Linked DNA regions of Homo sapiens. The protein of the gene in region 1 purifies or fractionates together with the protein of each later gene. This does not show direct contact. Each region holds a gene or a part of one and is shown in the gene's direction. Other genes may lie near its edges.

Region 1 (7,024 bases):
CATGTAGATATAGCTGTCTTTCATTTAGTTGAAATTAGTGGAGTGAGACAGTGAAATGGCATCAATCCCTGCTATTTCATTTATTATTTAAGAATAATAGCTACCATAAACTGAGCATTTAGTTAGCATAAAGCCCCATGCTAAGTGAGTTGTGTATATGCATTTTGCAAAGCCAAAACCATGTACAGTATGTATATGTTTGTTCATTTTTTTATTTTGAGACAGAGTCTCACTCTATCGCCCAGGCTGGAGTGCAGTGGCGTGATCTCGGCTCACCACAATCTCCGCCTCCTGGGTTCAAAGGATTCTCGTGCCTCAGCCTCCCGAGCAGCTGGGATTACAAGCGCATGCCATCACACGTGGCTCATTTTTGTATTTTTTTTTTTTTTTCTTGAGACGGAGTCTTGCTCCGTCGCCCAGGCTGGAGTGCAGTGGCGCGATCTCGGCTCACTGGAAGCTCCGCCTACCGGGTTCACGCCATTCTCCTGCCTCAGCCTCCCGAGTAGCTGGGACTACAGGCGCCCGCCAACACGCCCGGCTAATTTTTTGTATTTTTAGTAGAGACGGGGTTTCACTGTGTTAGCCAGGATGGTCTTGATCTCCTGACCTTGTGATCCTTCTGCCTCGGCCTTCCAAAGTGCTGGGATTACAGGCGTGAACCACCGCTCCCGGCCTCATTTTTGTATTTTTTAGTAGAGATGGGATTTCACCATGTTTGCCAGGCTGGTCTTGAACTCCTGGCCTCAAGTGATCCACTCGCCTTGGCCTCCCATAGTGCTGGGATTACAGGCATAAGCCATCCCACCTGGCCTGTATATAATGTTTAATTCTCACAGCAACTTGTAGAGGAAGAGGCTGAGGCTGAAAGTGAGAAAGTAATTTTCCTAAGATTATGTAACTAAAAAGTGTAAAGAAGGAATTTGAACCCACATCTTTCAAACTCCATAGTGAAAGCCCTTAAACACTATACCATATAGGCAAGTCTTAATTTTGTGTGAGGTCTTGCATTGGAAAAGGAAGTAAGTGAATGGGGGGTAATTTAGTGGCTCTCAGTGGAAGTGGGCAAATTCTGATGTGGCTGGCATTTTGGAAGTTTGTGTAGGTGTTTTGGTTGGCATAATTGGGCTAACATTGCTGGCATTTATTGGGCAGGGACCAGGGATATTAGACAGCCTGCTATGTGCAGAAAAGCCCCACAGTAGCCCAGTACCTAATTTATATAAAATTATTGGTTACACGGGTTTTTTTTTTTTTTTTTTTTGAGATGGAGACTTGCTCTATTGCCCAACTTGGAGTGCAGTGGTGTGATCATCTCGGCTCAATGCAACCTCCACCTCCTGGGTTCAAGCGATTCTCCTGTCGCAGCCTCCCGAATAGCTGGGACTACAGGTGCGCGCCACTGCACCCAACTAATTTTTTTTTTTTTTTTGAGATGGAGTCTTGCTCTGTTGCCCAGGCTGGAGTGCAGTGGCACGATCTGGGCTCACTGTAAGCTCCACCTTCTGGGTTCACACCATTCTCCTGCCTCAGCCTCCTGAGTAGCTGCGACTACAGGCGCCCGCCACCATGCCTGGCTAATTTTTTTGTATTTTTTTAGTAGAGACGGGGTTTCACTGTGTTAGCCAAGATGGTCTCGATCTCCTGACCTCATGATCCGCCCGCCTCAGCCTCCCAAAGCGCTGGAATTACAGGCGTGAGCCACCACGCCCGGCCCACCCAACTAATTTTTGTATTTCTAGTAGAGATGGGGTTTCGCCATGGTGGCCAGGTTGGTCTCGGACTCCTGACCTCAAGTGATTCGCCTGCCTCAGCCTCCCTAACTGCTGTGATTATAGGCATGAGCCACCGCACCTGGCCTGGTTACACCGTTTTAATATGCACTGAATTTTCCAGTAATGCAGTAAATCAAAGCAAGTTTGTACTTTTTTTGGCAGGGTGGCGGGGGTGGGGGTAGTTTACTAAGGAGTGTTGACCAATTTGGAAAATTACGTCATTAGTGGCATTGCTACCTTCTCTTTGAGGCACTGGTACAACACACCTGTGCTGCTTTGCCTTTGTAGCTGTTGAATTCATGGTAATTTTATGTATAGGTAGAAGTAAAGACTGGTATTAAAATACTGAACTGCTTTGAGAACAGCTTGGTAAATACCAGCTGCTCTGAGCTTCCCTACCTCCTAGTGTGTCCATGTATAGGGCCCTTCGGATTTCCTGCAGTTAGCAATGAAAGAGTTAATCACTGGTACCTTGGGGTTGAAGGGCTTCCAGGACCATCCAGCTTTATGGATTGTGCCAATGCCTGTGCTGGTGCCTGTGTGGATGTTATTATTCCCTGGGTTCAAAATCTATTCATAATATCATCTAGTGTAGTTGTGGTGAAATAGTTACATACAGAAATACATATTATTTTATTAAAATTACTTCTTAGGTCTCCTTTATGTTACATTTAGGGCATCTATTGTAGGGTATGTCTCGATATGTGTCTAATAGGTTATAACATTCATTTCATTTAAAAATAGAGAACAGCTGCTTCAAACTGAATCAGTAAAAATAGGGGATGTTGAGTTTGAGAGTTGGGAACTACTGACTGGTAAATCAGTCGGGGTCCCACTGTTTTTGTCCTTTATCTTGCTTCAAATTGAAATCATTATCTATTGCTATTATAAATTAAATATATAGCTGGCATCATCTGAGTAGTAGAAATGAAAGCGTCAGTAATTTGTGTTGTTTTTAATAGAGTTTCTCCTTTTGGAATAGGGTGTTCTGTATTTCATTGATTCAGGTGGCTCTTATTTCATCTAATAATCAAGGTAAAGTATTTGAACTAATTAATTTTTTATCATCCATAGCAATCTTATCTCATTTTTCATTCTTCTAACAGACTTTATGTGGTATCAACAGTTGTATATGATTTAATTATTTGACAGTGCAAACTGCAATATACTAATAGGGTCTCTTCCATCAATAGACTTATTTTGAATCACATGAATATTTACTCATTAAATTTATTTTTATTTTTGAGTGGAAGTTTCCTTTCCCTGTATTAAATGTATTACTTCCTTTCCAGAAATGTCAAATGCAAAAGAAAGAAAACACGCCAAGAAAATGAGAAACCAGCCTACCAATGTGACTCTGTCCTCTGGCTTTGTGGCTGACAGAGGTGTAAAGCACCACAGTGGAGGTGAAAAACCTTTCCAAGCTCAAAAACAAGGTAAAATACACATAAGAGACCAGGCATGGTGGCTCACGCCTGTAATCCCAGCACTTTGGGAGGCTGAAGTGGGCGGTTCATGAGGTCAAGAGATCAAGACCATCCTGGCCAACATGGTGAAACCCCGTCTCTACTAAAAATACAAGAATTAACTGGGTGTGGTGGCGCGTGCCTGTAGTCCCAGCTACTTGGGAGGCTGAGGCAGGAGAATCGCTTGAACCTGGGAGGTGGAGGTTACAGTGAGCTGAGATCATGACACTGCACTCCAGCCTGAAGACAGAGTGAGACTGTGTCTCAAAAAAAAAAAAAAAGATACACATGATGCTCTCTCCACTCCCATTTTGATCAAATTGCTTTTGTCAGCTCTTTTGATAGTCATTATCTAAATAGTAAATGAGCTGAATTAAAAACAGATACAGTAGACCCTTATTATTTTTGAGTTTCCTATTTGCAAGTTTGCCTACTTGCCAAAGCTTATTTGTAACCCCAATATTAATACCCATGAAGCTTTGGCTATCATTTGTGGACATACATAGAGCAGGAAAAATTTGAGTTTCCCTGTGTTTACGTTCCCAGCCGAGCTTCCCAGCTGTCATGCAGAAATGGGCAGAGGATGGAGGCAGTATAAGGGCAGGGCAGTACAGTGCAGGAAGCTCCAGCTCTCCTGGGGTTTGAATCTCAGCCCTGGGGCAGCCTCATGCAGGTCACTTAGCATTTCTAGACTTCATTTTCTCTTTTGTAAAATAAAGGAAATAAACTCTACCAGGAGGAGTTGTTTTTTGGATTTAAGATTATAATATGGCCAGGGGCGGTGGCTCACACCTGTAATCCCAGCACTTTCAGAGGCTGAGGCGGGCGGATCACCTGAAGTCAGGAGTTCGAGACCAGAGTGGCCAACATGGCGAAACTCCGTCTCTACTAGAAATACAAAAATTAGCCAGACATGGTGGTGTGTGCCTGTAGTCCCTGCCACTTGGGAGGCTGAGGCAGGAGAATTGCTTGAACCGGGAGGTGGAGGTTGCAGTGAGCCAAGATCGTGCCACTGCACTCCAGCCTGGGTGACAGTGAGACTGTCCCAAAAAAAAGGAAAAAAAAAAAGATTATAATCTATGTGAGATGAAGATATGTATGTATCCCCACTAGGAGGAATGGTTCAGTATTCACTAATTCATTGACGTAATTCAGGGACGTATGAAACATGACTACTATAAATAATGAAAATTGGCTATGCATATTTTAGAGCTGGTATATTTTATTTCTACCTTAACATCAATGATTATTATACTTCTGTGTTTCCTAAGAGAAGTGCAGTATAGTCATCATATCTGTATTTCACTGGTGTGCTGATTTTAGAACCTTATGAAGTGATAGGAAGATCACAGTTGTTCATTAGGGCAGCGGTAGAAAGTGCTAATTTGGGAAGACAGCAAAAGCAAGTGTCCAAGGACTTGTTTGGAGTGCTTTAAAAAACTGCATTGGGTCTGATTAAGTAAATTTTAGAGTCAAGTTCATAAGGTCTAGATTCAGATCCTACAGTTGATGCCTACCATGCCATATGATAAGGCTTTCACATTTTTTTTATCTCATTTAAACCTCACAATGTTCTAAGATTTATAGTGGCTTAATAATTAACACCACAATTGAAATAAGCAGAAACACTATAAAATTCTCTACTGATCTCTCCCTTAATTTACAGACAGTTTTTTTTTTTTTTTTTTTTTTTTGAGGCAGAGTCTTGCTCTGTCACCCAGGCTGGAGTGCAATGGTGCGATCTCGGCTCACTGCAACCTCCACCTCCTGGGTTCAAGCGATTCTCCTGCCTCAGCCTCCTGAGTAGCTGAGACTACAGGCGTGTGCTGCCACTCTTGGCTAATTTTTGTATTTTTAGTAGAGACAGGGTTTCACCATATTGGCCATGCTGGTGTCAAACTCCTAACCTCAAGTGATCCACCTGCTTCGGCCTCCCAAAGTGCTGGGATTACAGGCGTGAGCCACTGTACCCGGCCACAGACAGATATTTAATGTTGTCTTATAGTCATAATGCCCAGACACTTGTATGGAAATGTTGCCTTTTTTTTGGAGATGGAGTCTTGCTCTGTTGCCTGGGCTGGAGTGCAGTGGTGCGATCTTGGCCCACTGCAACCTCTGCCTCCCGGGTTCAAGCAATTATCCTGCCTCAGCCTCCCGAGTAGCTGGGACTACAGTCACATGCTGCCACACCCAGCTAATTTTTTGTATTTAGTAGAGACGGGGTTTTACCATGTTGCCCAGGCTAGTCTTGAACTCCTGAGCTCAGGCAATCCACCCACCTTGGCCTCCCAAAGTGCTGGGATTACAGACATGAGCTACTGTGCCTGGCTGGAAATTTTGCTTTTTAAAGTTTTAAGACAGGATCCCACTCTGTCACCCATGCTGAAGGGTAATGGCACAATCGTGGCTCACTTCAACCTTGACCTCCTGGGCTCAGGTGATCCTCCCACCTCAGCTTCCCGAGTAACTGGGGCTACAAGCATGTGCCATTATGCCCAGCAAATTTTTTTTTTTTTTTTTGGTAGAGACAGGGTTTTGCCACGTTGACCAGTTAGTCTCAAACTCCTGGACTCAAGTGATCTGCCCACCTTGGCCTCTCAAAGTTCTGGGATTAGAGGTGTGAGCCACCACATCCATCCTGGAACTTTGCTTTTAGTTATTTATTTAGTATAGTGGCTCTCAATTTGAGTGTGGCAGAGAGTTAGGATAAAAGACTGTACACAATCATGTGGATTATAGTATTAAGGGAGTGTCGTTTGGGCTGCTGTAACAAAATACAGGTTGAGCATTCCTAATCCAAAAATCTGAAGTCTAAAATGCTCCAAAATCCAAAACTTTTTGAGCGCCGACATGACATGACAGGTGGAAAATTGCACATCCGACCTCATGTGATGGGTCACAGTCAGAATGAAGGCATATAACACACAGTTTATTCAGCATTCCCATGGGAAAAAAGATGTTCCCAGCCCCCTTCAGCTGTGATATAAATATTTCCAAGCACTCCCAGATTTCACCACGTAAGCACACCCACAAAGACAAATAAAATACATGTAATTTTTACTGTTAAATACTTACATGTGAGTAAGTGTAAGAAAGTGATTGCTTATCAGTAGCATATAGATTCAGAGTCAGGAAGGATGCTGATGCCAGCCAACCACAGATTGTCCACAGGGTGGCTGAGATAGTGGCACCTTTGCTTTCTGATGGTTCAAGTATACAATGTGCAAAAAGTTTCATGCACAAATTATTAAAAATATTGTATAAAATTACCTTCAGGCTGTGTATGATAAGGCGAAAGAAGTGTAATTGAATTTTGTCTTTAGACTTGTGTTCTATCCTCAAGATATCTCATTTTATATATATACGAATATTCCAAAATCCAAAAAAATTGGAATTTGATACACTTCTGGTCCCAGTTATTTCAGATGAGGGATACACAACCTGTATCTTACTGGGTAGCTTATAAATAACAAATGTATTTCTCACAGTTCTGAGGGCTGAAAAGTCCAAGATGAAGGAGCGGGCAGGTTTGGTGACTGGTGTGGGCCTGCCTTCTGGTTCATATACAGCACCTTTTCACTGGTTCTCACATGGTGGAAGGAGCGAGGGTCTCTGTGAGCACTCCTTTATAAGGATACTAATCTCATTCATGAAGGCTCTACCCTCATGACCTAATCGCCTCCTAAAGGCCCCACCTCCTAATACCATCACCTCGGGGGTTAGGATTTCAACACTGGAATTTTGGGGGACATAAGCATTCAGACCATAGCAGGGAGCTTAGATTTG
Region 2 (7,442 bases), on another chromosome or scaffold:
TCATCACTCAACATATGAAATGAGGGTAAATAAGGAGGGAAAAAGAACTTAGAAATAATAAAGGGAACCAAGGGAAGGTGAATGAGGATCTCAAAAAAGAGTTTTATTTCACTTAGAACATTAAAAACCATCACATAAATTTTGAGATGAAATCACCTAACTCAGCAGTTCTAAGTGTAGTCCCAAAATCCTAGGGGGCCCTCTCCCTTTTCCAACTACCTATCTGTATTAAGCTGGATTTTCTCATGTACTTTTACAAAAACAAGATATCCCAACAGACTGAATGCAGAAACAGACGAGAACCCAGTTGTTTTCTATTAAGCCAGACATGAAAGAGATTTGCAAAAATGTAAACCACCACCATTCTTCATGCTAAATTTTCTTTTGTTTAGGAGAATGTATTTTTCATAAAAACCTGTTTAGGTTAACATATTTATTATTGTTATTTCTAATCAAACTTTAAATGTTTCTGAATTTTAATTTCTAAAATGTTAGTATCAACAGATACAAACCAAATAAAAGCTCTTTGGAGTCCTCCATAAATTTTAAGGGTATAAAAGGGTTCTCAAACCAAAAAGTTTGAGAACTGACCTAGTGAAATAACTTGTCAGTATTGCCAATACTTTTTTAAATAAACAGTAATTCTCTCTCCCCACACACCATTCAGAATGTGTTCCCAAATTTCCTCTTCCTAACCATCCAATCATTCCCTTCCTTATATTGTTCCTCAAATCCTTGGTCTAAGAGAAGTAAACCCTTTAGCATTGTCCTCTAACCCAGACTCCCTGAGCCTCAAAAAAGCGGTATTTAAAGAGTATATTTCAGCCGGGCGCAGTGGCTCACGCCTGTAATTCCAGCACTTTGGGAGGCCAAGGCAGGTGGATCACCTAAGGTCAGGAGTTCAAGACCAGCCTGACCAACATGGTGAAGCCCCATCTCTACTAAAATACAAAAATTAGCCAGCGTGGTGGCAGGCGCCTGTAATCTCAGCTACTTGGGAGGCTGAAGCAGGAGAATCACTTGAACCCAGGAGGTGGAGGTTGCAGTGAGCCAAGACCGTGCTACTGCACTCCAGCCTGGGCAAAATGAGTGAGACTCTGTCTCAAAAAAAAAAAAAAAAAAAAGTATATTTCAAATCTTTTTTAAGCCAGAGTCTGATCTTCCTTTTTGCATTAATAACAGTATGTGGACTCCTGCTTATTTTCATGCCTCAATTAACTAATAGCAGTTTCCTCCCTCCCTCTCACTTTTTCTCCCTCCCTCTCTCCCTCCTTTACTCCTTCCTCCCTCTTCCCTCCCTCTCTTCCTTCTTCCCTCCTTCTGTCTCCCTTTGTCCCTCCATCCCTTCCTCCCCCTCCTTCTCTCCCTCCCCCTCCTTCCTTGCCCTCCTCCCTTTCTCTCTCCCTCTTCCCTCCCTCCTCCCCCTCTCCTTTCTCCCCCTCCTCCTTCCCTTTCCTCCCCCTCTCCTTCCTACCCCCCTCCCCCTCCTCCCTTCCCTGCTTCCCCTCCTTCTTCCTTCCTCTCCCTCCCTCCCTTCTCCCTCCCCCTCCTCCCTCCCCTTTCCTCCCCCTCCTCCCTTCCCCCTTTCCTCCCTCCCTCTCTTCTCCTTCCCTCCCTCCCGTTTCCTCCCCCTCCTCCCTCCCTCCCCTTTCCTCCCTCCCTCTCTTATCCTTCCCTCCCTCTCTCTTCTCCTTCCCTCCCTCTCTCTCTTCTCCTTCCCTCCCTCCCCTTTCCTCCCCCTCCTCCCTCCCTCCTCCCTTTCCTCCCTCCCTCTCTCTCTTCTCCTTCCCTCCCTCCTTCCTTCCTCCCCCTTCCCTCCCTCCTTCCTTCCTCCCCCTTCCCTCCCTCCTTCCTTCCTCCCCCTTCCCTCCCTTGCTTTCTTCCTTCGTGTTTGTGCACAAGCTCAGCAAGCCCGATTTAAAACTTTTAACAAGAAAGAAGAGGCGGGTGGATCACCTTAAGTCAGGAGTTCGGGACCAGCCTGGCCAATACGGTGAAACCCCGTCTCTACTAAAAATACAAAAAAATCAGCCGAGCACGGTGGCGCGTGCCTGTAATCCCAGCATTTTGGGAGGCCAAGGTGGGCGGATCACCTAAGGTCAGGAGTTCGAGACCAGCCTGGCCAACATGGAGAAACCCCGTCTCTACTAAAAATACAAAATTAGCCGGGCACAGTGGCGGGCGCCTGTAGTCCCAGCTCCTCGGGAGGCTGAGGCAGGGGAATCGCTTGAACCCAGGAGGTGGGGGTTGCAGTGAGCCGAGACTGCGCCACTGCACTCCAGCCTGGGCGACAGAGCGAGACAGTCTTTAAAAAAAAAAAAAAAAAAGCCCCAATTCCAAATCCACCTGCAATCCAAAGGGAAGAAGTTTTGCAGAGAAGTTCTTCCCATTTGTGGGGCGCTCCCATTTTTCCTCTCTTCCCTCACCCCTTATTCTCTCTCAGGGATAGCGGTTCAAGTCGGTGTCCCTGAGCCACACGTCCCCCTCTCTCTTCCCCGTCCCCTCCCTTCCTTCCTCCCACCATGAGGGAATCTCCCCTCCACCCCCACTCCTGCCGAGGCCCCGTGATCCTTATTCTCACTCATATCGTTGGTGCCCGCCAGGAGACTGGGCTATTTTTTTTTTGTCTGTTTCTTGGGGGCGACAGATTCTGAGGAAAAAGGGCGAAGGGCTGGTTGTCGCCCTGAGAAAGTTTCTCCTCAGGCAACGGGTGCCAGGACTGGCAGCGCCTAGCACCTTCACCTACAACCAGAAACTAGCTGGCTACCTTCAGGAGCAAGGAGGACCTAAAGGCGATGGGCGGAACCAGCTGCCGCAGCGACTCCGCAAGCCCCTCACACCTCAACCCAGGTTTCCCGCCACCAAGAAAAGGCACGAGGACGCCCTGAGCACTAGCTCCACCCGAGGGCGGTGCGCTCGCGGGGCCGAGGCGCATGCGCAACTGGAAACAGCGTCTGCGTTTCCGCAGCTGAGGTAAATCCGCCATCTTCCACCCGAACGTCCCGGGAAAACTACAAATCCCAGAATCCTCTTTGGTGTCACATATTTTTAGGCGGCGGCCGCGGCGCCTGATTGTTCCTGAAGCACATCTACTAACTTTTCTGTTTCAGACTGCCTTTTCCTCCCTCTTTCCGTTCTCTAATTCCTCCTCTTCCTGCTGGTCTCCTTCACGCCCTCACCTTAGGATTTTGAGACTCTCCTGGACCCCACTGTCACCCCTGCCGCCCTGTCCTCGGCCCAGCACTCCGCTGGCAGGGAGACCGGGCGGCGCATCTCCCCGGGAAAACGGCGTAGACTCGCTTCTTCCTCATTGGCAGAAGCTGGGGGGGCCCAGCGCGGACCGAACCCCCGTCCCCGCCCACACTCGCTGGTATATAAGTCGGCGTGGCGCCGCGGTGGGTGTTGAGAGGCCCGCGAACTGACGGGCCAGTGAGCGGGCGTCGGGAGTGGGCGGATGCGTTGGGGTTCGGGTCGTGGGTGTTGAGGCGGAGAGGAAGGCGTGGTGTGGCGTCTCCAGGTGATTGCGATTGGGGGAAGGTAGAGGAGCCAGAGAACGACTCAGCCGTTTCGGGGGAAGAGGAAGTTGGACAACATCGGCTGTTTTAGTGCTTTTTATTTTTCCCCAATTCAGCAGAGAATATTTTCAAGGGGGGTGAGTTATAATGACCTATCGCGTTTTACTGAGCCCAGTTCCACTCCCGCCCTTCCTTGGCTTTGTAGGGTCTCCCCTCCGCTCCCTCGGAAGCGCTTCTAAGAAGGTGGGCAGAGGGGGGGAGGTTTGCTACCAACAGCTCATGAATAATTCATGAGCCCCGCCCTTCGTCAGGAAGCCCCGCCCCTCCGGATCGCGCTGACGCACGCTGCGTTTACCAAACTTAAGGAAGCGACGTCACAGGCCCAACCCCTAAGACGGGGGGCGGGGCGCCAGTTTCAGCACGTGCTGCCTCTACCCGCGCAAGCCCAAAAGGGTGTGCGCAGGCGCTGCCCACTAGGGGGGAGGAAGGAGGCGGGGTGGGGAGGTTGTTGGATTTAGAGCCGGGCGGAGACCGCTGAGACTCATTCCTCAGGAACAAGGGTCGGGTGTCAAGGAGACCTTTTCACACCAGCTCCCGTCCCCCGCCTACGGTGGGTGGGATCGCGCGGCAGAGACAAAGGAGATCAGTAGGGCCGGACATAGCTGCGCAGGGAAGTAGGGTGTCAGTTTGGGGTGGTGGGCTTTTGCGGGGGCTGTGGGGGGGTTATATTTAAACTCCCAGAGCCGTTAAGTTGGTTCGTAGTCTGATGCGCGCGCAACCAGGGTGGTGGCGGAGTGCGCATGCGTGGTTCCCGGGCGAAGGGAACGCGCGCTCACCGTGCGCGCTCGCGGCCGGGTGGTAGTGGCGGAGGAGAAAGGGGTCGGCGCACGCGCGGTTGAGTCCTCGAGTAGTTCGGGTCTCGCGGGCCTCTTGTTTTGGTCTCGCGGGCTAGTAGGGCGCACTTGGCGGGGAGGCGCTTGGGCGCGAGACTAGGCGTGAAGAGCAGAGCTGCGCGCGCACTCGGGAAAGGGGGGAAGGGAGCAGGGTCCAGGCAGGGGGGGTTAGGCCCCCTGATCCCCCTCGTTACCCCGACTGGCACGGAATAAGGGGAGGAAATGATCGAGATGGCGGCGGAGAAGGAGCCGTTTCTGGTGCCGGCCCCGCCGCCGCCGCTCAAAGATGAGTCGGGCGGAGGGGGCGGCCCCACGGTGCCACCGCACCAAGAGGCCGCCTCTGGGGAGCTCCGCGGCGGGACGGAGCGTGGTCCGGGTCGTTGCGCGCCATCTGCGGGGTCCCCAGCCGCTGCGGTCGGTCGGGAAAGCCCCGGGGCCGCGGCCACCTCCTCCAGTGGTCCCCAGGCGCAGCAGCACCGAGGGGGCGGCCCCCAGGCGCAGTCGCATGGGGAGGCCCGCCTGTCGGATCCCCCGGGGCGAGCCGCTCCCCCGGACGTGGGGGAGGAGCGCCGGGGAGGGGGCGGGACAGAGCTGGGTCCCCCTGCTCCTCCTCGACCCCGCAATGGCTATCAGCCCCACCGGCCACCTGGGGGGGGCGGGGGCAAGAGGAGAAATAGCTGTAATGTAGGGGGAGGCGGGGGAGGCTTCAAACATCCGGCCTTCAAGAGGCGCAGGCGGGTGAATTCGGACTGTGACTCTGTGTTACCCTCCAACTTCCTCCTGGGGGGCAATATCTTTGATCCCCTGAACCTGAATAGCCTCCTGGATGAGGAAGTGAGCCGCACTCTCAACGCGGAGACCCCTAAGTCATCCCCCCTTCCGGCCAAAGGGCGAGATCCGGTGGAGATCCTCATCCCCAAAGATATTACTGACCCGCTCAGTCTCAATACTTGCACTGATGAGGGCCATGTAGTTCTTGCTTCGCCACTCAAGACTGGTCGGAAGCGGCATAGACACCGGGGACAGCACCACCAGCAGCAGCAGGCAGCCGGAGGGAGTGAGAGTCACCCCGTGCCGCCCACAGCCCCTCTCACCCCCTTACTCCACGGGGAGGGCGCCTCACAGCAGCCGCGGCACAGGGGCCAGAACCGGGATGCCCCCCAACCCTATGAACTCAACACAGCCATCAACTGCAGGGATGAAGTGGTGTCTCCCCTTCCATCTGCTCTGCAGGGTCCCTCAGGCTCCCTATCAGCCCCTCCAGCTGCCTCAGTTATCTCTGCACCCCCATCTTCCTCCTCCCGACATCGCAAACGTCGCAGGACTTCCAGCAAGTCGGAGGCAGGGGCTAGGGGTGGAGGCCAGGGTTCCAAGGAAAAGGGCCGAGGGAGTTGGGGAGGCCGCCACCACCACCACCACCCACTGCCTGCAGCAGGCTTCAAAAAGCAACAGCGCAAGTTCCAGTATGGGAATTATTGCAAATACTATGGGTACCGCAATCCTTCCTGTGAGGATGGGCGCCTTCGGGTGTTGAAGCCTGAGTGGTTTCGGGGCCGGGACGTCCTAGATCTGGGCTGCAATGTGGGCCATCTGACCCTGAGCATTGCCTGCAAGTGGGGCCCGTCCCGCATGGTGGGCCTGGATATCGATTCCCGGCTCATCCATTCTGCCCGCCAAAACATCCGACACTACCTTTCCGAGGAGCTGCGTCTCCCACCCCAGACTTTGGAAGGGGACCCGGGGGCAGAGGGTGAGGAAGGGACCACCACCGTTCGAAAGAGGAGCTGCTTCCCAGCCTCGCTGACTGCCAGCCGGGGTCCCATCGCTGCCCCCCAAGTGCCCTTGGATGGAGCGGACACATCAGTCTTCCCCAACAATGTTGTCTTCGTCACGGTAAGAGGGTCCAGAGGCTCTTGGAATAGGGGCCAGGTGTGAAGATGAGATTAAATGGGAATGTAGCAGGGAAGGTTATGACCCAGATCCTCAAAAGAGGGGTCTGGGTTGGCAAGTGAGAGCCTCTGCTGGGCGTCTCTCCCCTCTTATAACCTGGAAAGGTGGGGTGTCTACCTTGGGGCATTGACCCTGGAGTCCTTTGTCATGACTGCAAGGATCTCCAAGATAGAGGAGGACTCTCTTTTTGCTCTGCTCCCGGCTTGGCCTATAATCCACACTGGTCCACCTTCCCTTCCCTTGAAGGCTGCTGCTCACTAGGGAATTTGATCCAGGTGGAACTTGGTCCTCAGATTTACTGAAGGAGCCTGAGAATGGGAGTCAGACATGGAATGTCTTCTAGGGAGGAGATTAGGGTAGCGACAGACTAATACTGGCGTTTCTGCCCTTTGATAGCCACCTTGCTCCTATCAGCGGCTTTTGTTTTCCTAGACAGTTTGTTGAAGCGTGTCAGGAACCCAAGTGGTTTGGCTGTAGATCCTCTCCACATTGACCCTAGATAGTGGGAGAGGGAAGAACCAGAAACTCCTCTGCAGAGAGGAGAGAGTCCTGTGCCCTGCAGAGTCCCCTGACTGCACACAGCTCCCCAGAGAACACTCCAGTTAGGCTGCCTACTGGGATCTTTGGCATTGTGTTGGGTTAAGCCTGAAGAATGGTCTTTTTAGAGGGTTGTGATGAGCTGAGCTTCTAGAAAAGGCTTCCTAAAGGATGTGGCTCTTCATTTCTCTCAGAGAAAGGAAAGAATAGGCCTGAAACTTTGCCAGCCCCAACTGCAGGGAAGGAACCACAGGTCTGCCTTTGAAACCTGGGTTAGTTACCCTTGCAGAACCTGCAGTCACTCCACTTAATGTCTGTGAGTGAGAATAAACACAGGATATGGTCCTGGGACCCTAGCTTTGGAAGACTTCATGGATAATTTGCACCATTTAAAATTACTCAGGCTCCGTCGACCTTTTTTGGCTTACCACCAGTAGGAAGAAGCAGAGGCAGGAAGGTGTAGAGGAGAAAACAAAACTCAAAGAGGGCAGGCACCTTTTGGGAGTTAGTCTGAGAAGAAAGTGGCCACGGGCTAAAGTGAGGCCGC
Region 3 (7,000 bases), on another chromosome or scaffold:
TCTCCTCCTCTCCTAGCTTTAGCCCTTAACACAGAGTGTGGCACATCTAACATGGTCAGTAAAGAATTCCACCAACTCAAGAACGAAAAATAAACTCCCTATCATGGATAAATGTCTTTCCCCATTATATATCTTTCTTTCCTCTTTATCTTCTCTTTCTTCATCCCTTTCTTCTCACATTTTTTCTTCATTTTCTGTATAATAGCAAGTCTCCTAGGCCAGGTGGCTGTGCTGGCCATTCCCAGTAGTTCTCAAAAACACAAACAGATCCTTCTGGAAAGTTCTGTCTTGAATTGGTCCCTGTTGCAGGACAGTACATTAGAAATGGTATTTCTAGAAGGCTTGGAGAAGTAGATGATAAGCCAGAGTTTCCTTCTTGGGATTCCTCTCCCGAGTCTGAACTGGAAACCATTGACCTAGTTGTTAAACAATGGAGGCCCCCAACCCAGAACATTTTAATGGGATAACTTTTAGATTTTCTTGAGAAACATGAACTGAGAATAGAAAGACTTCTACATTCTCTCACTGCCCTGGCCATTCCGGTCCCTATTTCAGGGTCTCAGTCCCTCAGGAGAGATATACGAGACCCCCAATGGGTGTCCAATCCTTGGATTTTCCTCTAAGACTTTATCCATGTGTTAAGAGTCCACAATGCACCTCCAAAGAAGCTCCTGTGTGACCACCATTCATCTTCTGAGGATATCAGCGATCCTTTCATGCCATCCCATGCCAAGACTAACACTGCTCTGTGGTGATCCCCCATCCTATATCTGTAGGAAGCCATGCTGGGTCTGCCCGAGCCAGAGTTTTCAAAATCTATAATCCCTCCAGAACCTCCTTGCTTTCCTCAACATAGATTTTTGCCAAAGGAGATCAGATCCAATTGGAAGATCCCTCCCCCGCAGCAGAATACTTTGTAATTGGATTAGTCTCAACAGCAACAGTAGTTCTGGCCTTGAATATGAGTTAATCAGCCAAGTCACAACACAAGAAAGCTGACTGCACCAGAAAACCCTGTACAATCCGTGAATTTCTTCATGGTTGAGACTCAGATGAATCATCATGTTGATCTGACTCATGCTTCTCCCTGCCTTAGGCCAAGAGACTGAGGCTTCACCTGGGATCTGCCTCTTTCCCACTCAAGAGTCAAATGAGCCCCCAAGGAGTAAGAAAAAAATGTGATTGATTCTGATTTGCACCCCAGTCTTTTTTTAATTTATCATAAAGAATCAAATATTTACATTAGAAGATATCTTGTGCTGTGAAAAAAAAGGAATAAAAGAAGGGAGGAAGAAAAGAAGTGGGAGGGTGGGAGAGAAAGGAAACAATAGAATAAGGCAGGCGCGGTGGCTTACGCCTGTAATCCCAACACTTTGGGAGGCCAAGGCCAGAGGATCGCTTGAGCTCAGGAGGTCAAGACCAGCCTGGGCAACGTGGAAAGACCCCATCTCTCGAAAAAAATAAAAAATTAGCCAGGCACAGTAGCATACACCTGTCGTCCCAGCTATTCAGGAGGCTGACGTAGGAGAATCGCTTGAACCTAGGATGTGTGGCTGCAGTGAGCCATGTTCTCACCACTGCACTCCAACCTGGGTGACAGAATGTCACCTGTCTTAAAAAGAAAACAATAGGCTAGAAAAAAAAGAAAAGAAAGCAGTAAGTGACATAAGACCAAGAGGAAAAAGGGAAACTTGAGCATCATCTGTCCTCCCAGTGGCCTACGGAGGGAAAAGAGTAGACACTTAGCTTCACAGTCCACCGCAAATCAGGCAGGGTCACTTCTGCAAACACTGGTAACCTACTAAAACCCAAGCACAGAATAAGACAGACACTGAGATTCAGAGATAAAGTCAAGATGGCTCCTACTGTTGCAGGGGAACTAGAATGACTCAGAATCCCAGACAGGTCATGTTTGAAGAGGCCATTCATTCACTCCCATTGAGGTGAAAGTTGCATCCCTTTCTCCCTTCTCTCCTTCTCTTATCCTGGAGCGCAAACATTGTGTGGAGTGCAAACATTGTGTGGAGCCCCTACATAGGCGCGGTGGCTTATGCGTTGGAGTTGAACTACTATGAAGGTACTTGAGATCTGGTGATTCCCTTGGATAAATTTCCTACAAGGAATCATTTCACAAAGTTTTATGGACAGAAAATGCCCATAATTTGGATGGTGGCTTTTGGAGCCGTGACATGATCTCAGCTATATGAATAGAATTATAAGGACAAGATGCTGAGGGATTTACTCAAGAGCTCTGACTAGCTGACAGTAGAATCTTGGCAGATCTTCCAACACACACATCTAGTATGGCCCAATCTTCAGAATTATCTGTGCATTTGGGCAAGAATAGGCCCCATCGCCAGCACCCTGGCATTTGGGCAAGACTCGCACAAAAAATGAGGGATGGCTTCAGGAGTAAGAACCTTTGAGACGGCCTGGGTTGTGGACTTAATAGTCTGGAGAGATATCAACAGGTATCAATTTAATTTAATGGTTCCATTCCTCAGATATCTCTAGGGCAGAGTCCTCAGCCCAGGGCACACACAGAATCACGACTCTGAACGTGAGCATTCTCACTGGAGGGGTAGAGGTCACTGTGGTGACCCTTTTGAGCACCCAGGAAAGATTCCCAGGTAAAAGGAGGACTGAGGAAAAGCTGGAAAAGAGGCAAGTGTCAGCCTAGGATGTGTCAGTGGGCCATGCATTCATCTACAGGAAGGGCGGTTCCGCCTGGAAGAGGCAGAGCGGCCCTTCTCCCCCTGTCCACCCATGTCTCCTCACCCCACCTCACCCCGAGATGAGGAGCCCTGAGAGAGCTGGCAGGCTGCAGTCGGTGAGGTCTGCAGATTTGGGGAAGAAGTCGAATAAGGTAGAGAACCACAGAAGGAAAGTCCAATTAGGGCGCTGGGGCCTGAGATCATCAGGCCCTAGCCTGATGACTCAGGAGTCTAGCCCTCCAGATGAACTGGCTGGTTCCACACACAGGTCAAGTGGATGTGCTGGGAGAACATCCTAAACCTGTAACGGAAATTAGGGGGCCAGGAGCCCACAGAAATCACACACTGGGTGAGCTCAAGTGTTCGGAGACTGAGGTAGCAGTTGTCCACTGTCAGGTCCCGAAAGTAGATATCGCCTTGCATATGCCATTTATCCTTCTGATGCTCTAGTGAATGAAGGTGTTGATGAGCTTGCAGACTCTGGAGACCATTCCCCTATGCTATATTATCACGTCACAATAGTGGCTGGACCCACCTGAGATTCTGCACCTCAGGTAATCAGACGGCTACTGTCTAAGTCCTGGGCCTGGGGGAAACACTCTGACGTAGCAGCAGACACAGGAGGGTCCCCGTCAGAACCATGTTTTCTGTGAAGTGGGGATCAGTCCTTTTCCCTGAAGTACCTAGCACATAGGTGTTCTCAGTAAGTGTTATGTTAGCTTACTAAGAAGACTGGTCTCATTTGAAGAGAAATTAACAAATGTAAAAAAATAAATAAACCTATTAACTAGGTTTAATATTTATCAAACTATTAACTATTCAATAATCATTTAACTATTAATTTCTGTTTTCTTCAGTCGCTTAAATCTGATTTTTCTCTTCTTTCCGTTACTGCAGTCTCCCTTTTTCACACAGGGAAACAACCCAAGACTCAGAGTTCTCCGCGGAGGAATGCAAAGAACACAGGAAGTCAGTACTCCCAGAAACAGTCTTTGCTGGCGCGCTCACACCCAACCCCATCCCGCCCCCGTCCCGTCCCGCCCCGCCCCACCCCACCCTCTTGATTTCTGGGGCCGGTGACCAGGCCCAACGCAGCCTTCAAGTCGGCCCAAACACGGTTTCTGCCTCAAGGATTATTTATATAACCATTGCTTATTGGCTGCTGGCAAACACTCGCTCTTCTCGTTGGCTGAAACTGTCGGGAGAAGTTCTGCGAAGGCTGCTCCTTGCGGCGTTGGGACTGAGGGTCACAGGCACCTGTATTTCCGTTTCCGGTTCGCCTCCGGAGCCATGGCGGCGGCACTGAAGTGTCTACTGACATTAGGAAGATGGTGCCCCGGCCTTGGAGTGGCTCCCCAGGCCCGGGTGAGTGCCTACATTCCCTGCTGTCGGAGAGACTCTGGATCTGCAGAGACATCTCCGCGCAGAGGAGGAGCGCTCCTGGCAGCCCCCGCCCTAGCGATTGCCAGCAACTTTCCTTTCTGCCAGGAAATCAACCTACCTTTCTCTGCCTGCAGGCGCTCGCCGCCTTAGTACCCGGAGTGACCCAGGTAGATAACAAGTCCGGTTTCCTGCAGAAGAGGCCTCATCGCCAGCACCCTGGCATCCTAAAGCTGCCGCACGTGCGGCTGCCACAGGCACTGGCTAACGGTGCCCAGTTATTGCTACTTGGTGAGTAACGGCGGGAAAGCGAGAAGAAACGGGACTGGACCTACATGCAAGTGATTCCGCTTTTCGTCTTTGGCCCATAGGGAGCGCTGGGCCCACTATGGAGAATCAGGTGCAAACACTGACCAGTTATCTCTGGAGCAGACATTTGCCTGTAGAGCCAGAGGAGTTGCAAAGACGGGCTAGGCATCTTGAGAAAAAATTCCTGGAAAACCCAGGTAGGACTTAAGAATAATTAAAAAGTGGGCGAGATTGAAATATCGGTTAGAAATGAAGAGTAAGAAATAATTCTACAATCTCTCAGATACTGAAGTCTCTTATTTGACTTTCTAACCAGAGCAGCAGTTGTTACAATGATGCCTTACTAAAAGAAGGTAGATTATTTTAGAGATTGCTTAGGTAAAGGTCAGAATGTCCCAGTATACTGTTTTTTGTTTGTTTGTTTGTTTTGTTGTTTTGTTTTTGCTTTGAGACAGAGTCTTGCTCTGTCACCCAGGCTGAAGTGTAATGCTCGATCTCGGCTCACTGCAACCTCCGCCTCCCGGGTTTAAGTGATTTTCCTGCCTCAGCCTCTTCAGTAGCTGGGATTACAGGCGTGCACCACCACACCCGGCTACTTGTATTTTTAGTAGAGACGGGGTTTCATCATGGTGGCCAGGCTAGTCTCGAACTTCTGACCTCAGGTGATCCGCCCACCTTGGCCTCCCAAAGTGCTAGGATTACAGGCATGAACCACCGCGCCTGGCTACCAATATACTGTTAAAATCTAGATATTTATTTTTTTCTGCAAGTCCACTGGATTAGGACCTTCTAAGTTTTTATTCAGGTAAAATAAAGTCCCTGGATGGTCCCTGCCCAGTACTGAAACCCTCTTCTGGGATAAGAGGGTAAATATAATTCATCAAGTTAGTTTCATGATTGTGAGCTCCTTGACACTACCATTTATTCATCTTGCATTCCCTGCACACCTCACAGTACCTGGCTCACAGTAGTTCAGTAGATACTTGCTAAATAGTACTGAACTGAACAGTCATGAGACGTAGATTTTCAGATTTCTTTCCTCTCCATAGGAATAGTGGAGATCATCAAAACCTTAAATTTTGGAGAAGTGAAGAAATCCAAAAAATAATGTCCTTGGCCTACCCTTTAAAAAAAATTTTTTTTTTTTGAGACAGAGTCTTGCTCTGTTGCCCAGGCTATAGTGCAGTGGTGCGATCTCAGCTCACCACAACCTCTGCCTCCCGGTTTCAAGTGATTCTCCTGCCTCAGCTTCCCAAGTAGCTGGGAATACAGGTGCACGCCACCACGCCTGGCTAATTTTTGTATTTTTCGTAGAGAAAGGTTTTCACCATGTTGGTCAGGCTGTTCTCAAACTCCTGACCTCGTGATCCGCCTGCCTCAGCCTCCCAAAGTGCTGAGCTTACAGGCGTGAGCCACCGCACCCAGCTTACCCTTTAAATTTGTATCACACTTTCCTTTAATATAAAACAAACCTGTGGGACAGGATTGGTTAAGCTGAATAAACCATTCTTATAAATAAAATGCTATCTGATACAATCTGTTAGTGGTAGTTGTTACCGTTAATTCTTGCCTGAAACTTTTCTCTAGGTTTGTCGTCTCCCTTGAGCTTTAAGGCTTTTCTTAGGTGGAGTCGGGGAGGACTGGGTGGGCAGTATATTCAGATATTGGATCTGAGCCCTGTTCTCCCTAGGTCCTGACTTCCAGTCCTTGTTCTCACCACAGACTTATCTCAGACAGAGGAGAAACTTCGTGGAGCAGTGCTACACGCACTACGTAAAACTACCTACCATTGGCAAGAACTGAGGTAAGGGGGCCCAGAAGAGGTGCACAAGAAAGCAAAGGTAGACTTTAGAAAGAGAGTTGGGGGAGTACAATTACACAATCAATTTAGTATTTTCTTTTATATCACCTGACCTTAAAAGGATCAATTTAGTATTTGAAAAAGCTAAAGTACAAAGTTTTGAACACTGAAGTTTGAAAATTTAGTGTTTGTAAGTCTCCCCAGGACCCTTTTGTATTGGGGAGTGAAAGGCCTGAGCTGGAAGAGCCCTTTCCAAGATGTCATTTTCTAAATCTAGAAGGTAATTATGGGATTAAGGTTATTTACTAGTATGTACAACTCTGTGATTTTAATGGCAGCTACACTGAGGGACTGAGCCTGGTGTATATGGCAGCAAGACTGGATGGTGGCTTTGCAGCAGTCTCCAGAGCATTCCATGAGGTGAAAGTCCCTTAACTTCCAACCTGAACTTTTTGACCATCAGTTCCCTATTCATAAAGTAGTTTTCTAGGATGGGGATTCTTGGGACATTGCATATGCATTTTTTTTTTAAAGAGGATCTCCGCTGGACATAGTGGGCTCCTGCCTGCAGTCCCAACTGTTTGGGAGGCTGAGGCAGGAGGATTGCTTGAGCCAGTTTGAGGCTGCAGTGAGCTGTGATCTCCACTGTACTCCAGCCTGGTGACAGAGTGAGACCTCATCTCTTAAAAAAAACACAAAATAAAGACGTTCTCTTTATCCTGTGAAAGCTTTCTGTGACCCAAGAAAGGTTTAGAATCACTATTTTAGGAGATTCTTATCCCATAAGGTATTTGTA
Region 4 (7,024 bases), on another chromosome or scaffold:
GTAGGCTGCACTGTGAATTGGTCAGGAAGCAGAAGAGTCCCTGTTAATTTATTCACCTATTTTTTATTAAAGAGAGAAAGTTGGAAACATACAGGTGTCTAGCTTGTTGTTCAGAGTAAATAATAGTTGTGGCATAGGTATGTATGTATTATTTGTAACATAATATCCAGTCTGGCTGTGGAGCTGTTTGTCTACATAAAGTATGGAAATGTATACATTGTGAGAGCACAGTCTTGGTCCTTGCATGTTCCCTTGGCTTTGAGTGTAAACTTGTTTTTGGCCTTGAGAAGTTCATAGATTGGCTTTAAAAGGATCACTTTATAAGGATTACTTTTTTTTTTTTTTTTTTTTTTGAGACAGAGTCTCGCTCTGTCCACCCACGCTGGAGTGCAGTGGTGTGATCTCGGCTCACTGCAGCCTCCGCCTCCTCAGTTCAAGCAATTCTCCTGTCTCAGCCTCCCAAGTAGCTGGGATTACAGACATCCGCCACCACAGCTGGCTAATTTTTTTTTTATTTTTAATAGAGTTGGGGTTTCATCATGTTGGCCAGGCTGGTTTTGAACTCCTGACCTCAAGTGATCCACCCGCCTCGGCCAGGATACTTTAAATTAAGCACAGATCTTAATTTTGTCACGATGTGGGCCCTTTTCTTTGGTTGTGGTGAAAAGCAGTATTAAGAAAGGTAAATCATTCATCTTTTACCAATAGGCCAGATGCCATGTGAGAATCATCAGCTTGGAAGGTTGGGATTGTGAAGGAGGGCCCAGGAGCTCTATAGCATACCAAACACTCCATTTGTGTACTTTGCAGCTCTTTTCCCTTTTGTCATCTTCACTGTATGCTTAGGGCACCATAATTTCAATTATGCAATTTCCTCTAAAATCTCCCACAAACCTCTTCTGGAGTCTAAGTAACTTGTCATCGCATTTCTGTCATGTGATAGATGTGTTTCTAAAAAATTGGATTCCACTCCTTTTCTTGAATAATCACATGACTTCAGATTATTTAGCATTTTATGACATAAGCAGTTTGATACCTGCTTTGGCCCAGCAGTTTTGGGATGGGGTAGATGTTAATTATCTCCATATGCAGGTAATACAGTAGAATCTTAGGTAGTTCATGGTTCACACAGTTAAATGACTCTCTCAAGGGGTTGACAAGGGATTTGTACTCAAGCTTTGATTCCAAATCTGCTGTTATTTCCTACTGGGAAATGCTTTTTAAAGTTACTTTACAGCAGAACTCTTTGTTAAGCACAGAGTAATTTCATATTTTAAAACATGAGCTTTATGAATTCAGGTTGTGAGAAGAAGGATGTTCTTAAAACAGCACGTATCTCTTTACTTTCCCTTTGATTTTTTTACAATGTTATTTCCATTTCAATGTTATTGTCACTTAACAATGACTTCAAGCTTATTGAGTTATTTTAAGGGATCTTATATGTTTTACACTCTCTCTGATGTTTTCCCCTCAGTCCTTCCTTTAACCCTAATCCATTTCTGTCTTCGTGGTCCGATTACTCCCCACTGAGAGATGTTTAGTAAGTAGTATCTAAACAGTGAGGTAGTTCCATGAATCATGCTATAAATACTTGATTTGGATGTGAGTGTTCTGTAAACTTTGTTTTATCACACATGAATCTAATGTGTTAAGTACTGTGTCCATTCAGTGCCAGCAAATTGTGCCAGTATTAAAAATTTCTGTGGAAAAAAAAAATGCAAACAACACCAGAAACAAGGTTAAAAGACAGATGACAAACTGATGGAAAATTTTCACTCATGTCATAGACAAAATGCTTATTCCCTTAACACATAAAGACCAAAGAGTGCCTAGAAATTAATAAGTTAAAAAAAAAGATGAACAATACCAAAAAATGGATTAAGAATATGAAAAAGGCATTTCACAGTAAAGGAAATGCAAACAGGCCTTAGACATATGAAAAGATGATTAAATTTATCATAGTAAGAGATTTCACATTAAAATCACCTGTGTGATTAGAGATACACTCTGTTGTAAGGCTGCAGGAAAGCAGACATTCTCATATTTTGCTCGTAACTGTGTAAATGAGAACAGTCCCTATGCGGAGAGTGGGTAATTTGGCAACAACTATTCAAATTACAAATACGTTTACTGATTTAAACAACAGTTTTAAACTGTATGATCTCACAGTTCTGAAGCCTGCAAGTCTGAAATCAAGGTGTCAGCATGGTCTTGTTCCCTCTGAAATCTATAGGACCACCTTCCTTGCCTCTTTTTAGCTTTTGGTGATTTTCTGGCAATCTTTGGTAATCCTGGGCTTGCAGCTACGTAACTCCAGTCTCTGCCTTTGTCTTCAGTGTGTTCTCCCTGTTTGTCTCTATGTCTTCACATGGCCATCGTCTCATAAGACACCAGTCATATTGGATTAGGGGCCTACCCTATTCCAATCTGACTTCATCTTAACTAATTACATCTACAGTGACCCTATTTCCAAATATAAGATTACATTCTGAGGTACTGAGGTTTAGGGCTTCATTGTATCTTTTGTGGATGAGGACGCAATTCAACCCATTATGCCTAGCAATCCCACTTTAGTGTTATTCTACAGATACACTGAAACCACCCAAAGGCTCTCAGTAGAGGTTTGGTTAAATACATGCTATACCTCTACAATATGATACTCTACAACTGTAAAACAGAGGAAGTTATGAGCTGACTTGGAAGAGCTTTCATGTCAGGACAACAATGCAGCAGACTACCTTTTGGATAGGAAAGAAAAATAGTATCTCTTCGTATTTGCTTATAGTTGTATGAAGAAACTCTGGAAGAAGACACAAGAAATTAATAAAAGTGATTATTGGAGGAAGGGATAGGGCAGATAGGATTGGAGATGCAAGTAGTACTTTTTATTGTTTTCTTATGTTGCTTTGTGAGTCATGTGGACAAATTACCTGTCTTAAACACTGAAAGGGTTTCATTCATTTGAATTGAATAAAGAACTAATTTTTATGAAATTAACAGGGAATCAGTATATTGTCCCAGTAATCAGCTCCTTACTTTCTTCTCGTCTTTCTCTAAGGCTTTGCTTAATACTTGGAATTTTAGTACCAATGTATCTTGATTCAACTGTCACACACCTGTCCTTAGTAGCATCTTTATGACCATTATTTTTCATTAGTAAAGAAATGTGATCATCCACCCATGCCAGAACCTTTGGTCAGACATGAGAACAAAAGCTAATCAGGCAGGCACTGTTAGGAAGAGGCTGTTAGGAACAATCATTTGATGAGCTTTAGGCAATTTGCATCAAAATGGTCTTACAGCAAGATCCCAGGTAATGAGTCTGTATTTTATCCATCTAAAAATTTAAAATAAGATGCTATGAAAGAAATATTCACAACCTTCAATAGCACATTATTTTTAATTTTTCTTTTTCAAGAATTCCTATAGCAGTTTTAAAGTGAACTTGATTAATGTACCAAGATGAAAATCAGAACTTTTTCCTTAAAAAATAATTATGCTGATAATATCCTTTTTTTCTCCCCTCCCCCCGCAAAAGTTGTTTTTATTTTGATTTGGTACCCACAAGGGTCTAGAAATTTAGATTCAGTCAATTAGGAATATTTCGAGATCTAAGCATCCAACTCTATATATCATTCACCTCTTTCATTTATTTCCCCTCTTCATCATCCTGTTGCCTTGTATTATCGTTCCACAACTAGAAGGATAAGGAAAAGAAATACAGGTCAGCCTCTTCAGCTAATTAGTAGTTTTGGTAAAATATATAGCCAAGGAGATGGCTGATAATATGGCTAAAAGGGATGTTTTTACTTATCTGTGGTTTTTGGTTAGCCAGGTGCACCGAGGTTCCTTTGATGATGGATCATCTATAATGAACAACGTTATCACAGGACATCTTCTCCATAAGCTGCTATTTATTCACTCAAAATATAAATATATTATACACCTTTTATGTAAAAGGCAGTCTAGCTCTCAAGAAGTGTGCAAGCTTGGCAGAGCCAATGAGATACACGTTCAACTAGGACAGAAATACTATCTTAACAAATGTCATTCCCAGAAATAATCAACACAGGTGAAAGAATTAGAGATGGGGAAAAGTCAAAAAATGAGAGAGGGAAAGGTTGCAGTGTGGAAAATAGCATTTAAATTCTAACCAAACTAGAATCAGACATATAGGAAAATCTAAAATAAAATCTGGGAGCCTTGAAGCCGGAGGAAGAATTAAGGAAATCTGTGTTCGGGAGGGAAAAGCAGAAGGGGCCTTCAAGTACAACTGAATTAAATCAAGATGGACTGCCAGTTCTAGAAAAAGACAAGTTTCTCCATTCCCCGTAAATGCTCAGGAGTAAACCCCAGTAGTCACAGCTGGGCCAGTCCCAACTTATACTCTGGGCAATCGAAACTCATTTGCCAAGCAGAGACTTGGACCATACTGCCTAGAACATGCCTACCATTCTTTCTTTATTCTTTTGAAAGAGTACTGCCACTCAAGTGACTTTTGCAATTGAGAGTCTGATTATCATCTCTATGCTGAAAATCCTTCAGATGTTTTCTCCATTAGGAATAATCCTCATCACCAGCTCTAAAGGCCTGCACAGTTGGCCCTTCCCATCCTCTTTAGCCTGTCTTCCTCATTATTTTTCTCCAGCATTTGACCTTCCCTACGTGCTGCCATGCTGCAACCTTGAAGACTTTTGCATGCTCTGACCTCCCTCTGAAAGTGCACCTTCCTCTACTATTTAACTGCTTAATTTCTTCCTCAACCCTAAACTTCTCCTTGATAGCACTTAACACAGTTGAAGTTTTGTATTTTTGTGTGGTTATTGATCATCTCCCCCACTAAAATGTAAGCTTTTAGAAGGGAGAAACCATCTCAGCTTTTGCACGTAGTGGGCTTAAAACATCTTTTGTGAATGGATGCAGACATTTAGGTGCTCATTAGGAAAGCTGAACAGTATGGTGGTTAATTTCAATATCATTTCCACTCATCTACTTACCTGTGGATCCCTCTGTAGTAAGAGTACATTAAATAAAGAAGTTTCTGTTTCTCATGAAAAAAGCCAAGCTTGTATGGTGAGCTGGGCAAAATCTTCAAGGGCACTTCCATCTTTTTTGCTGTGCGGCTATAAGCCCAGTGAAAAATCAGGGGCTTTATTACTAAAGAAAAAGGAGAGGACAGATATCTGGGCAATTTGCAGGCTTTGCAGTAATGCTTTATAAAGGTATTGTAGTAAGGATTAAATATTATATATAAGACTCTCTTAGCATATAGTCAGCACTCAATTAACTATGGCTGTTATTCTCTCTTCAACATATAGAGAATAAATTACTTACCTGAAAGACCTTCCTGCCCTTGGTTCTTTGGGCTTTTTTCAGCTCTTCATTTCTTTGTCTCTTTGTGCATTCATAGGTCAGATTACTTGGTTTACTATGTTTGTATACAGTTTACTGTAAATGTAGGGAGTACATTTCTGTTTTCCTTTTGATAGTTCATGGAGTAGTAGCCCCTCTCTCACGCCATTGGGACTTTGTTCTTCTTAGCCTCTTCATAATTCCTGTTTATGTAAAGTCAGCTTCCCCACAGCCAAGTTAAACTCTCTTAATCAAGTAGAGCCACGGATTTATTTTCTTCTCCTTGTGGGTGGTGCCATTTGAGTGTTGATCTGTCTTTCATAAAGCTGTACCTTGACATGTAAGGGGTCAGTAGTAGGGAGTGAGGAGGGATGTGAAGAGAGAATCAGTGAAAATGAAGTAGGCCAGTGCATGCTTATCTCTGACAGTTCTCTTTATTTCCTGTGAAGGCGATTGACCGAGGCCTGGCTTTTGAACTTGTCTATAGCCCTGCTATCAAAGACTCCACAATGAGAAGGTATACAATTTCCAGTGCCCTCAATTTGATGCAAATCTGCAAAGGAAAGGTATGGTTCTATAATTTTAGGATGTTTTTCGCATCTGGCAGTTTATTATTAGTAGTACACTGGAATTGTCAAACTGACTCCTTTTCCTTAAAGCAGAATGTTCTCATAGCATAGGAACAAATTCTGCCATTTCAGTGAGCTCTGCAAATTTTAAGGGAAAGAAAAATACCAAGGGAAGAATAATGTAAGGGAGAAAAAGATGTGTTGGAAGCCATATCTTTTGATAAAAATTTGCAATTTACATACTGTGAAAGAAAAGTCTAGAATAACAATGGTCCTCACTGAGTTGAATTAAGATATGTGACCTTTTCATCTTGTTTTTTAAACTTAATTCACCTTTACTAAGATCTGTTAGGAAAACATATTTTGTTTTTTATTACAGATTGCCTTTAGTTTGACATGAAGTCTTTTCATTTTTTTCACCTTAATTATTTACCTTATCTTTAAAAGAAGTTGGTATTTGAGCCTTAAATGTTAAAATATGATTACTGGCTATTTATATTATGAAACTCCTTTTTTTACATTTATCTAAGATTAATATTAGTCACTTTCTATTTTGTAGAATGTAATTATATCTAGTGCTGCAGAAAGGGTAAGTCTAGCATGAAGTACTTTGTTTTCATCTTTCAGGTTATAAAACTTTTCAGTTTCTAGGGGATAAATTAAAATAGTAAATGAATATTTGTTGCATTTTTTTCTATTTTAACTGCATTTGCTCATTGTAATTGCTAAATAGTAAAATTTATCCCCACTTTCTTTAGGCTTCAACTTTTGTTTATATAATCAGTTTTTCTTTTATACTGTTACAAAATGCCTTTCAAGCTTCTCTTATATTTTCAAAAGCTATGAAACCCATCAAAATTATAAGGACTTAAATTTATGTAATTTTTTTATTTTTGGATACTTAAATTTTCTATTAATTTGCTATAAGTCATTGAAATGTTATAAATAATTTTCTCATATCTACTCTTTGTTCATTTTATTTCAGCCTTTAGAAATAAGAGGGCCATATGACGTGGCAAATCTGTATCCTTTTCTGAGTAAAAAGTTGTTGACATTGTCTTTCAGGAAATTTTGAATTTGAAGTCGTATTATAGTTGAACATG

Evidence for each region.
Region 2: the proteins of POP1 (region 1) and MEPCE purify together in Homo sapiens (affinity purification with mass spectrometry; 2 studies listed by BioGRID). This does not show direct contact.
Region 3: the proteins of POP1 (region 1) and METTL17 purify together in Homo sapiens (affinity purification with mass spectrometry, with the first as the bait; 2 studies listed by BioGRID). This does not show direct contact.
Region 4: the proteins of POP1 (region 1) and RPP30 purify together in Homo sapiens (affinity purification with mass spectrometry; 6 studies listed by BioGRID and IntAct, with this or other methods). This does not show direct contact.

Annotation. Positions count from the first base shown.
Region 1 is NC_000008.11:98,120,272-98,127,295, forward strand, and holds part of POP1 (ribonucleases P/MRP protein subunit POP1), read left to right. Parts: intron 1-3,064; 5' UTR 3,065-3,066; coding exon 3,067-3,208; intron 3,209-7,024. UniProt on the Homo sapiens protein: Component of ribonuclease P, a ribonucleoprotein complex that generates mature tRNA molecules by cleaving their 5'-ends. Also a component of the MRP ribonuclease complex, which cleaves pre-rRNA sequences.
Region 2 is NC_000007.14:100,425,389-100,432,830, forward strand, and holds the start of MEPCE (7SK snRNA methylphosphate capping enzyme), read left to right. Parts: upstream 1-4,442; 5' UTR 4,443-4,630; coding exon 4,631-6,301; intron 6,302-7,442. UniProt on the Homo sapiens protein: S-adenosyl-L-methionine-dependent methyltransferase that adds a methylphosphate cap at the 5'-end of 7SK snRNA (7SK RNA), leading to stabilize it.
Region 3 is NC_000014.9:20,985,999-20,992,998, forward strand, and holds the start of METTL17 (ribosome assembly protein METTL17, mitochondrial isoform 2 precursor), read left to right. Parts: upstream 1-3,981; 5' UTR 3,982-4,004; coding exon 4,005-4,079; intron 4,080-4,231; coding exon 4,232-4,385; intron 4,386-4,465; coding exon 4,466-4,600; intron 4,601-6,125; coding exon 6,126-6,207; intron 6,208-6,542; coding exon 6,543-6,624; intron 6,625-7,000. UniProt on the Homo sapiens protein: Mitochondrial ribosome (mitoribosome) assembly factor. Binds at the interface of the head and body domains of the mitochondrial small ribosomal subunit (mt-SSU), occluding the mRNA channel and preventing compaction of the head domain towards the body.
Region 4 is NC_000010.11:90,888,974-90,895,997, forward strand, and holds part of RPP30 (ribonuclease P protein subunit p30), read left to right. Parts: intron 1-5,801; coding exon 5,802-5,918; intron 5,919-6,480; coding exon 6,481-6,510; intron 6,511-6,906; coding exon 6,907-6,944; intron 6,945-7,024. UniProt on the Homo sapiens protein: Component of ribonuclease P, a ribonucleoprotein complex that generates mature tRNA molecules by cleaving their 5'-ends. Also a component of the MRP ribonuclease complex, which cleaves pre-rRNA sequences.